2 separate regions of the Homo sapiens genome follow, and region 2 is linked to region 1. Evidence: fine-mapped expression QTL. A gene starts in region 1. The other region holds a variant in brackets. All regions are shown on one strand. Distances are between the middles of the regions.

Region 1 (4,384 bases):
ATTCTTTCAGAATCATACACGACAACTAAATCAGGATTATATATTTAAGACTGAACAAAAATGTGTCCATGTACTGTAAATAGCAATTTTTAAAAAATTGCTCCTTTTCTTTCTTCTCTCTTAAAATCCTGAAGTTTCTGTATATCTTTGCAGATCATTCCCTACCAGACTAAATTTATAACGAGTTTATGGGGCCAGGAGAACATTACTGGACAAAATTAAGTTTATGAGAATTAGGTGAGAATATAGAAAAAGGGAAGGTAGAGAGACAATAAAATGACAATGCTACTACAGTCCCTAGAGCATAATATTGGAGGGAAATTGATGACGAAAGGTGAATTAAACATTCATTTCACAGGATCAGAACTCATTTGTCTCACATTTCAAATGTACACATGAAAAACTAAGTGTGAGGATTCATTTGACCTAATTACTGAAATTCTTTACAAAACACTAATATCAACTCAACCCCAAAGAATAAAACCCCAGATTACACATTATCATTCCGACGACTGAAGTCTAACCGGCAGAAAGTTGGCCTCGTAACACAAAATGAAAAACCAAGGCTCAATCTCTTCCTGTTCTCTGAAGAAATCATCTCATTGGAAAGAAAACAGAAAGGGAGCGACCAGTTTCCTAGGTCTGTGCTACTTAAGTACCCCATCCTCCCAGTAATCACCAATTTATTTTTTTAATCTTACCTAGTCTTTTTGACCTTGTAAACCTGAAAGTATTGAGTTGTAAAGGAATGTCATTTCCCATGCTTTCCTCCTAAGGCTCAATTGCTGAGTGAGGCGTGCTTTTTGTTCCCAAGTTCTCTAACCCCTGTGAGATATGGCTATTTCACGTGTCTTCTTAGCCCCACAAAATGGCTCCCTTTGTGCCACTTGGCCAGGACCCCGAGGGTAGCCACACATGAATGCAGGTCATAATCGATGTAAAATACATGCTCAAAAAAGTGATTTAAGCTTCTTCCAAGCCTTGAAGAGGATCCCAGACATAACTGTAACCCACCTTAAAGAACAGTGTGCAATTAGCTGAGACAATGTGGACACCTTCCACAGAATCCAAACCCTTCCACCAAGTAAGTTAAGCAAGGACTTGGAAAAGGGTTCCTGTCCAAACACTGTACCCAGTGCCCCAAGCCCAAAAAGCAGTGGGAAGAAGGGCAAGAAAAATCCCCCGCTTCCCAGGTAGCGCTACCACGTTAGAGACAATGGATGTCTCCGGCCCCGCCCAAGAACAAGAAACCTCCTCCTGCAAGGGAACCAGGGCCAGGGATGAACTCACTGGGCAAACGTCAAAGGAGGAAGCGAAGGTAGGATGCAAAGGCCACGGTCCGAAGGTTTAAGCGCAGAAAACCCACTCGGGTTGGCTCGTTCCCCGCGCCCGCCCCCGCCCCCCGCCTTAGAAATGAGCGCAGGGATGGGGAGAAGGGGTCTTTCCTTTGTTAGGAAGGGGAGACACTTGGAAGAGGGGAGGCACTTCGAAGAGGGGAAGAACGATTGGGTCCTCAATGGGGGGTGAAGGGTCGCGATGACCAGCCCCGCTCGACCACACATGCACCTGTCAGGTAGGTCCGAATAAGGAGTGGGGGCACGGCGAGGGTAAGGAGCCCGCCGGACCTGATCGATCCGGTCTCCGGATCCAATGGCTGCGCGCGAGAGCGAGACCAACCGCATGCCACGGGGGAGAGACAGGAGCGCGTGGCCCATCAATGGGACAATAGGACCTGACCATGCATGGGGCCCTAAAGGATCCCCGGGCACCTGGGGGGCCAAGCCCACCACCCTGGGGATGCACCAGCCGGGATGCACACAGGAGAAAGCGAAGCCCTCCCCGAAGGTTCCGATTAACGAAAACCGGCCGTGCTCCGAGGGGCGACCAGCCCCGGCCTCCTCAGCCCCTGACTCCGTGGAAGGAATGAATGGAGAGCAGCAGGGACCCGGGTGGGGCCGGCGCGCAGGGCTCGCCAGGCGGCACAAAGGCGGCGCCGACGGCAGAACCCCGCCACCCGCCCCGGCGCGAGCACAGCGCACGGGGCTCGTTACCCGCAACGACCGGCGCGAGGCCCCGCCGGCAGCGGCCCTCCCAGCCCCTCAGCCCCGCGCGGCTCGGGCGCGACCCGGTCGCCTCACCGGGAGCTATTCCTGCTGTTGGGGTCGACTCCCTTGAAGGTGGTGGTTGTGGTCATGGCGCCGAGGAGCGAGGTAGGCTGGCGCCGGAGCAGAACGCTCAAAGGGTCGGACCCGAGGGGCGCTGGGAAACTCCACACCCAACAGCCGACCACCGCTGCAGGAGCCGCCGCTGCCGCCTGTCCGGCCGATCGACGCCTTTATAGGGTTTTCAACCCCCGCCCCCTAACCCGCCGGCATTGGCCGATTCAAATGAATTCTTTCATTCCTATTGGCTCTCTGGAGTGCCAAGCACCATGCGGCATTACGATGGGCTGTGGCGGCCACGGCTCAGCCTAAGCCCGCCCCCTTCCTGGACTGGGAAGGCCTTGGGACTCTCTCCCCTCCCCCACCCCAAAATCTCGGCGATGATTGGACGGAAGGCGAATCTACCTCGCGCTGGGTGGAAGTCGTGCTGGCTGTCACTGTAAAACGTTACCTGACAGAGGGGGAAGCTCTTTCTTGGGGAGTTACAACCTCGGCAAGCAGAAGGGAGATTTGTCACTGTTACTGTTCTCTCATTTGCTTTACTGATGGTGGGATAGTAAGGGCATCCTCCTTAAAGGATGAAAAGTACTGCAACAAGTTGACATTTATCTGTTGAATACCTACTGTGTGTCCCATTTAGAAACCTAATAGTCTCAAAGCAGCCGCACAATGAGTCAGCAACAGAGAGCGCACCAAGATGATCCCTTTTAAAAGGACTGGAAATTCCTTACATTTTAATGTTACTGTTTAGTTGTAATGGGTGGTGCATGTACTGGACCAAAATTACAGTCGCTCCTATTTGGGGGCCTATTCTAAGGCTGGTTAATGCCTGGCACCAGGAATGGACTCATTCCCTGCTACCAAGACTATGGAAGCAGCTCAGGCCTCTGCAGCTGTTTATAACCCTTAAGTCATGACTCTTCCACCTGTCTGGGTAAATCTATCCATGCGACAAATGCAGACACACTTGGAGGATTCAGGAATGATGGTTTACAAGATCATAATAGGAAAGCCTTGGGCAAAAGAGGGCAGGCCCTTCTCATGTCTTGCATATTTCCTCAAGGCAGATGTCTTTGCTTGTCTCAATATTTCCATAATAATTGAACCACATTCCTCTTTGCAAAGCCACCTTTCAGGTAGTTGGAAGTTTGTATTCTGGGCAGTCTAGGTTAACCACCCTCCCCCCCCGGGCTTTCATGAAAAGCCAGTGAGAAGTTCTGTTCTAGAAAGCACGGATGATGCATTTATGTGCTTACCACAACAGCACGAAGCGCACCACTTGTTTGTGTTAGAATCTTCCCTTCTTTTTTTCCTTTCTTTTTTTTTTTTGTTTTTGAAGTGGAGTTTCGCTCTTGTCACCCAGGCTAGAGTGCAATGGCGCTCAATGCAACCTCCACCTCCCAGGTTCAAGCGATTCTCCTGCCTCAGCCTCCGTAATAGCTGGAACTACAGGCGTGCGCCACCACCCCTGACTAATTTTTGTATTTTTAGTAGAGACGGCGTTTCACCATATTGGCCAGGCTGGTCTCAAACTCCTGACCTCAGGTGATCCATGCTCCTTGGCCTCCCAAAGTGCTGGGATTACAGGTGTAAGCCACCGCATCTAGCCAAAATCTTAGCTTTTTTTTTTTTTTTTTGAGACAGAGTCTTGCTCTGTCGCCCAGGCTGGAGTGCAGTGGTGGCGCGATCTCTGCTCACTTGCAGCCTCCACCTCCCGGGTTCAAGCGATTCTCCTGCCTCAGCCTCCCGAGTAGCTAGGACTACAGGTGCGTGCCATCATGCCCGGCTAATTTTTTGTAGTTTATTAGTAGAGATGGAGTTTCACCATGTTAGCCAGCATGGTCTCAATCTCCTGACCTCGTGATCCACCCACCTTGGCTTCCCAAAGTGCTGGGATTACAGGTGTGAACCACCGCACGCCCAGCCAATCTTCCCATTCTTTCTTTTTTTGTTGTTGTTGTTTTCGTTTTTTTGAGACAGAGTCTCGCTCTGTCGCCCAGGCTGGAGTGCGGTGGCATAATCTCGGTTCACTGCAAGCTCCGCCTCCCGGGTTCACGCCATTCTCCTGCCTCAGCCTCCCAAGTAGCTGGGACTACAGGCGCCCACCACCATGCCTGGCTAATTTTTGTATTTTTAGTAGAGATGGGGTTTCACCGTGTTAGCCAGGATGGTCTAGATCTCCTGACCTCGTGATCCGCCCACCTCGGCCTACCAAAGTGCTG
Region 2 (4,384 bases), 27 kb before region 1:
TATCCCAGGAAGACGCCACTTGCAAGGAGAGCAGTGGAGGGCTTGTTACCAGCAAGAGGGTGTCAGTGTGTGACAACTGGGGGCTGAAAGGTCTCAGGGATGGACTGAGGTTGGAGACTGCAATGAGTGCCAGGGAGAGGGAAGAACAGACAGGACGGCTCAGGGGTAAGGAGCACACGGACATCTGGAATTTACTCCACATGCAGTGGGATCCTTTAATAATGTTCCCCCAGCTGGGCACGGTGGCTCACACCCGTAATCCTAGCACTTTGGGAGGCCAAGATGGGTGGATCACCTGAGGTCAAGAGTTTAAGACCAGCCTGGCTAACATGGCGAAACCCTGTCTCTACTAAAAATACAAAAAAAAAATTAGCCAGGTGTGGTGGCATGTACCTGTAATCCCAGCTACTTGGGAGGCTGAGGCAAGAGAATCACTTGAACCTGGTGGGGCGGAGGTTGCAGTGAGCCGAGATCGCGCCACTTCACTCCAGCCTGGGTGAAAGAGTGAAACTCCATCTCAAAAATAAAAAAGGTTCCCTCAAAGCAGGACCAGCCTGACCCAGGTGCTGCTTGGGAGCAGGCAGCAGAGTGAAACCTTGGCAGACTCCTGCCCCAGTCAGTGGAGGAGGGTCCTTGGCGGGGGCACCATGGGCACCTGTCCCTCTGGCTGGGGAAGATGTCTTAGTTGGGTTTCAGGTTCAGGTAAGTCTTCTCTTTGTTAGTTTCCAGAAAAACAGGGGAAGTGGGTAGAGCTGTGGCCTTCACTGATTGGTCACTCAGGACACTGGGCATGTTTTGCAAATGAGCTGAGAGGTGGCTTCCTCCACTGAGCAGGAACCAAAGGGAGGGGTACCGTGATGACAGGAAGCTCAGGATGCACAGGAAGTCATCTTCCCGCAGGGAGCAGCCAGTGCTGAGCAGAGTGACCTCCAAAACAAGGTAGCATCTGTCCCCAAGGCTAAGAGGTCATTACATTGAGGGGGCCTGACTTGAGGGAATGGGAGTGGGATTCCAGCCACATTACCTGAGCACGTGAGTTCTTTGATCCAGAACCACTGATCTGTCACTGTTGCCTTTTCTGTTTTCCCCCAGAATCCTAGTAACGGTGACATGGAAATAACATTAAAATGCTCTATTCTCTTAATTACACTATATCTGTCAAATGGTACACTCCTTACCATTAATCTACAATCACTGCATAGCCATGAATGTGAATTTATTGGCATGGAAAGATGTTCACAATACATTGTTTTTTTGTTTTTGTTTTTTTTTTTTGAGATGGAGTTTCACTCGTTTGCTCAGGCTGGAGTGCAATGGCGCAATCTCAGCTCATTGCAACCTCAGCCTCCTGGGTTCAAGCAACTCTCCTGCCTAAGCCTCCCTAGTAGCTGGGACTATAGGTGTGCTCAACCATGCCCCGCTAATCACAATATATTGGTAAATGAAAAAAGCTGGGCGGGGCACAGTGGCTCATGCCTGTAATCCCAGCACTTTGGGAGGCCGAGGCGGGTGGAACACCTGAGGTCAGGAGTTCGAGACCAGCCTGGCCAACATGGTGAAACCCCGTCTCTACTAAAAATACAAAAATTTAGCCGGGCATGGTGGCACATGCCGGTTATCCCAGCTACTTGGGAGGCTGAGGCAGGAGAATCACTTGAACCCGGGAGGCGGAGGTTGCAATGAGCCGCGATCATGCCACTGCACTCTAGCCTGGGCAACAGGGCAAAACTGTCTCAAAAAAAAAAAAAAAAAAAGCTGGCGTAAGCCATGCACAGTGGTGCATGCCTGGAGTCAGTCTTAACTCCCAGGGAGGCTGAGGCAGAAGGATGGCTTAAAGCCGGAAGTTCAAGACCAGACTGGACAACATAGGGAGATCCCACCCCATCTCAGAAAACTGACCAAGCAGCAAGCAGAGTATCCCATTTTTACTAAATACTTACATATATTCACATATTTCAAATTGTAGAATGAAAAACAAATGTTAGGTCAGCCGCCTAACATTGAGACGTAGTATTTGCTCTGTTGCCCAGGCTGGAATGCAGTGGTGCCATCTCGGCAACCTCCACCTACCGGGTTCAAGCTATTCTGCCTCAGCCTCCCAAGTAGCTGGGATTACAAGCATGTGCCACAGGCCCAGCTAATTTTTGTGTTTTTAGTAGAGACG[G/A]GGTTTCACCATGTTGGCCAGGCTGGTCTGGAACTCCTGACCTCAGGGTGATCCACCCACCTCGGCCTCCCAAAGTGCTGGGATTATAGGCGTGAGCCACCGCTCCCAGCCATTTGTTTGTTTTTGAGACAGGGTCTCACTCTGTCGCCCAGGCTGGAGTGCAGTGGTGCGTTCATGGCTTACTGCAGCTCCACTTCGTGGGCCCAAGCAGTCCTCCCACCTCAGCCTCTCAAGTAGCTGAGACTACAGGCGTGTACCATCATGCCTGGCTAATTGTGTGTGTTTTGGTAGCGACAGAGTTTTGCCATGTCGCCAAGGCTGGTCTCGAATTCCTGGGCTCAAGGGATCCTCCTGCCTTGGCCTGCCAAAGCACTGGAATTACAGGTGTGAGCCACTGTGCCCAGCCCATTCTAGTATTTTAACAGTTTTATTGCTATATGATGGACATAATAAACTGTACATATTTAAAGGGTACAATTTGATAAATTTTGGCATAAGTATATACCCATGAAACCATCATCTTATATTTTTATAACTTTTATAAACTGTTCTAAGGTGATGATACATTACAGGGTTTTAGTTTTTTATTTATTTATTTATTTCTGAGACAGAGTCTAGCTCTGTTGCCCAGGCTGGAGTGCAGTGATGCAATCTCGGCTCACTGCAACCTCCGAGTCCCAGGTTCAAGCAATTCTCCTGCCTCAGCCTCACAAGTAGCTGGGATTACAGGCACCTGCCACCACACCCGGCTAATTTTTGTATTTTTAGTAGAGACAGTTTCACCATGTTGGCCAGGCTGGTCTCGGACTCGTGACCTCAGGTGATCCACTCACTTCAGCCTTCCAAAGTGCTGGGATTACAGGCGTGAACCACCGTGCCCGGGCCGGCCTTGTTTTAGGTTTTTACATTTAAGAAAGGGGAAAAAAAAAGCGTATCAGCCATTGAACTTGCTGAACTGAGAGGGAAAGGGATTTGTGCCCACTTCTGGAAGGGTGGGCTGTGGCAGGCTGGAGCAGGCAGGCAGGCCTTTCTGGAAACTTGAGAAGGCAGGAGCCGGAATGGGCTTTGGATGCCTTGTGCTGGGGCCAGCTTCTCAACAGCCTGGGCCCCTACCTGGGGCTCACGGGCAGGGGAGGTGGGAGGAGGCCCGGGGCTACAGCATCCAGACTCTTCCTTGCTCTCCCACAGGAGGCCTGTGCAACCTGTGCCCAGACAGGGCCAACAAGGAGCACATCCTGCACGCAGGAGGTGTCCCACTCATCATCAACTGCCTATCCAGCCCCAATGAGGAGACGGTGCTGTCTGCCATCACCACGCTCATGCACCTGAGCCCGCCGGGCCGCAGCTTTCTCCCAGAGCTGACCGCCACGCCCGTGGTGCAGTGCATGCTTCGCTTCTCCCTCTCGGCCAGCGCCAGGCTCCGGAACCTGGCACAGATCTTCCTGGAGGACTTCTGCTCCCCCCGCCAGGTGGCCGAGGCCCGCAGCCGGCAGGCGCACTCTGCCCTGGGTATCCCACTGCCGAGGAGCGTGGCCCCACGGCAGCGCTGATCCATGGAGACTGCGAGACCGTGGCACCCCTACTGCTGGAGACCACAGTCCTGATGTGGACGCAGGGAACGGGGAGCACATACTGCCCCATTGGTGCCTTTTCAGCCATCTGAAAGGCGGGTTCTTTCAGCAGGACAGGCATTTACACTGATGAAACGCCACTGGGAGTGAGGAAGCCAGACTCCAGAGACACGGAGAAGATCAAACTGGAGCTGCGTTCATAGGCTGGCACTCTCAATCCTACATCAGGTGCCACCACCACCAGACTCAGGCCCTGGTGTAAGAAGCGGCCAAGTGCCTGGACCCAGAGGCTTTGCAGGACAGTGTTCTCAGGAGCTGGGCCTGAGGCTTAGGAGAGCTGCCTTCGCTGCAGGAAATCAGGGATTATCCCTTAACAGAAGTGTCTGGAGTAGTTTTCAGGTATAGGAATGAGATGCCTCGTGGTGAAAGGATCTCACCCTGGGAAGATGTGGTGCCCCCTCCAGGGCTCTGGAGGATGGATGCCTCCCCCAGGGGCTCTCCAAGCTGGGCATTTGGGCCTGGTGGATGCCAACCTGGATAACCTGTGGCCCAGCATTGACTGTCCACCCAGCCTTGCTGTTAGGCACCATGACTCCAAGATGAAGATGTGGTCCCTGCCCTTGAGTGACAGCCCAGGGACTTAATGTGG

What was found. PIP is the estimated chance that this variant, and not a neighbour inherited with it, causes the effect. A credible set is the group of variants that fine-mapping cannot tell apart.
Region 2: its variant is the best candidate, but not a certain one, in a credible set for the expression of JPT1 in whole blood (TOPMed, PIP 0.65).

Annotation. Positions count from the first base shown.
Region 1 is chr17:75,152,204-75,156,587 of GRCh38, forward strand. It overlaps JPT1 (Jupiter microtubule associated homolog 1), which reads right to left and starts at 2,309. Exons shown (of 5, transcript NM_016185.4): 1 at 2,139-2,309. The coding sequence starts at 2,194. RefSeq lists a silencer at 1,905-2,144 and an enhancer at 2,797-3,392.
Region 2 is chr17:75,125,325-75,129,708 of GRCh38, forward strand. It overlaps ARMC7 (armadillo repeat containing 7), which reads left to right. Exons shown (of 3, transcript NM_024585.4): 3 at 3,353-4,384. The coding sequence ends at 3,714. Among named protein-coding and RNA genes, the nearest start is that of NT5C, 4.2 kb to the right of the region's middle. The variant G/A (reference allele first, on the strand shown) is at 2,165.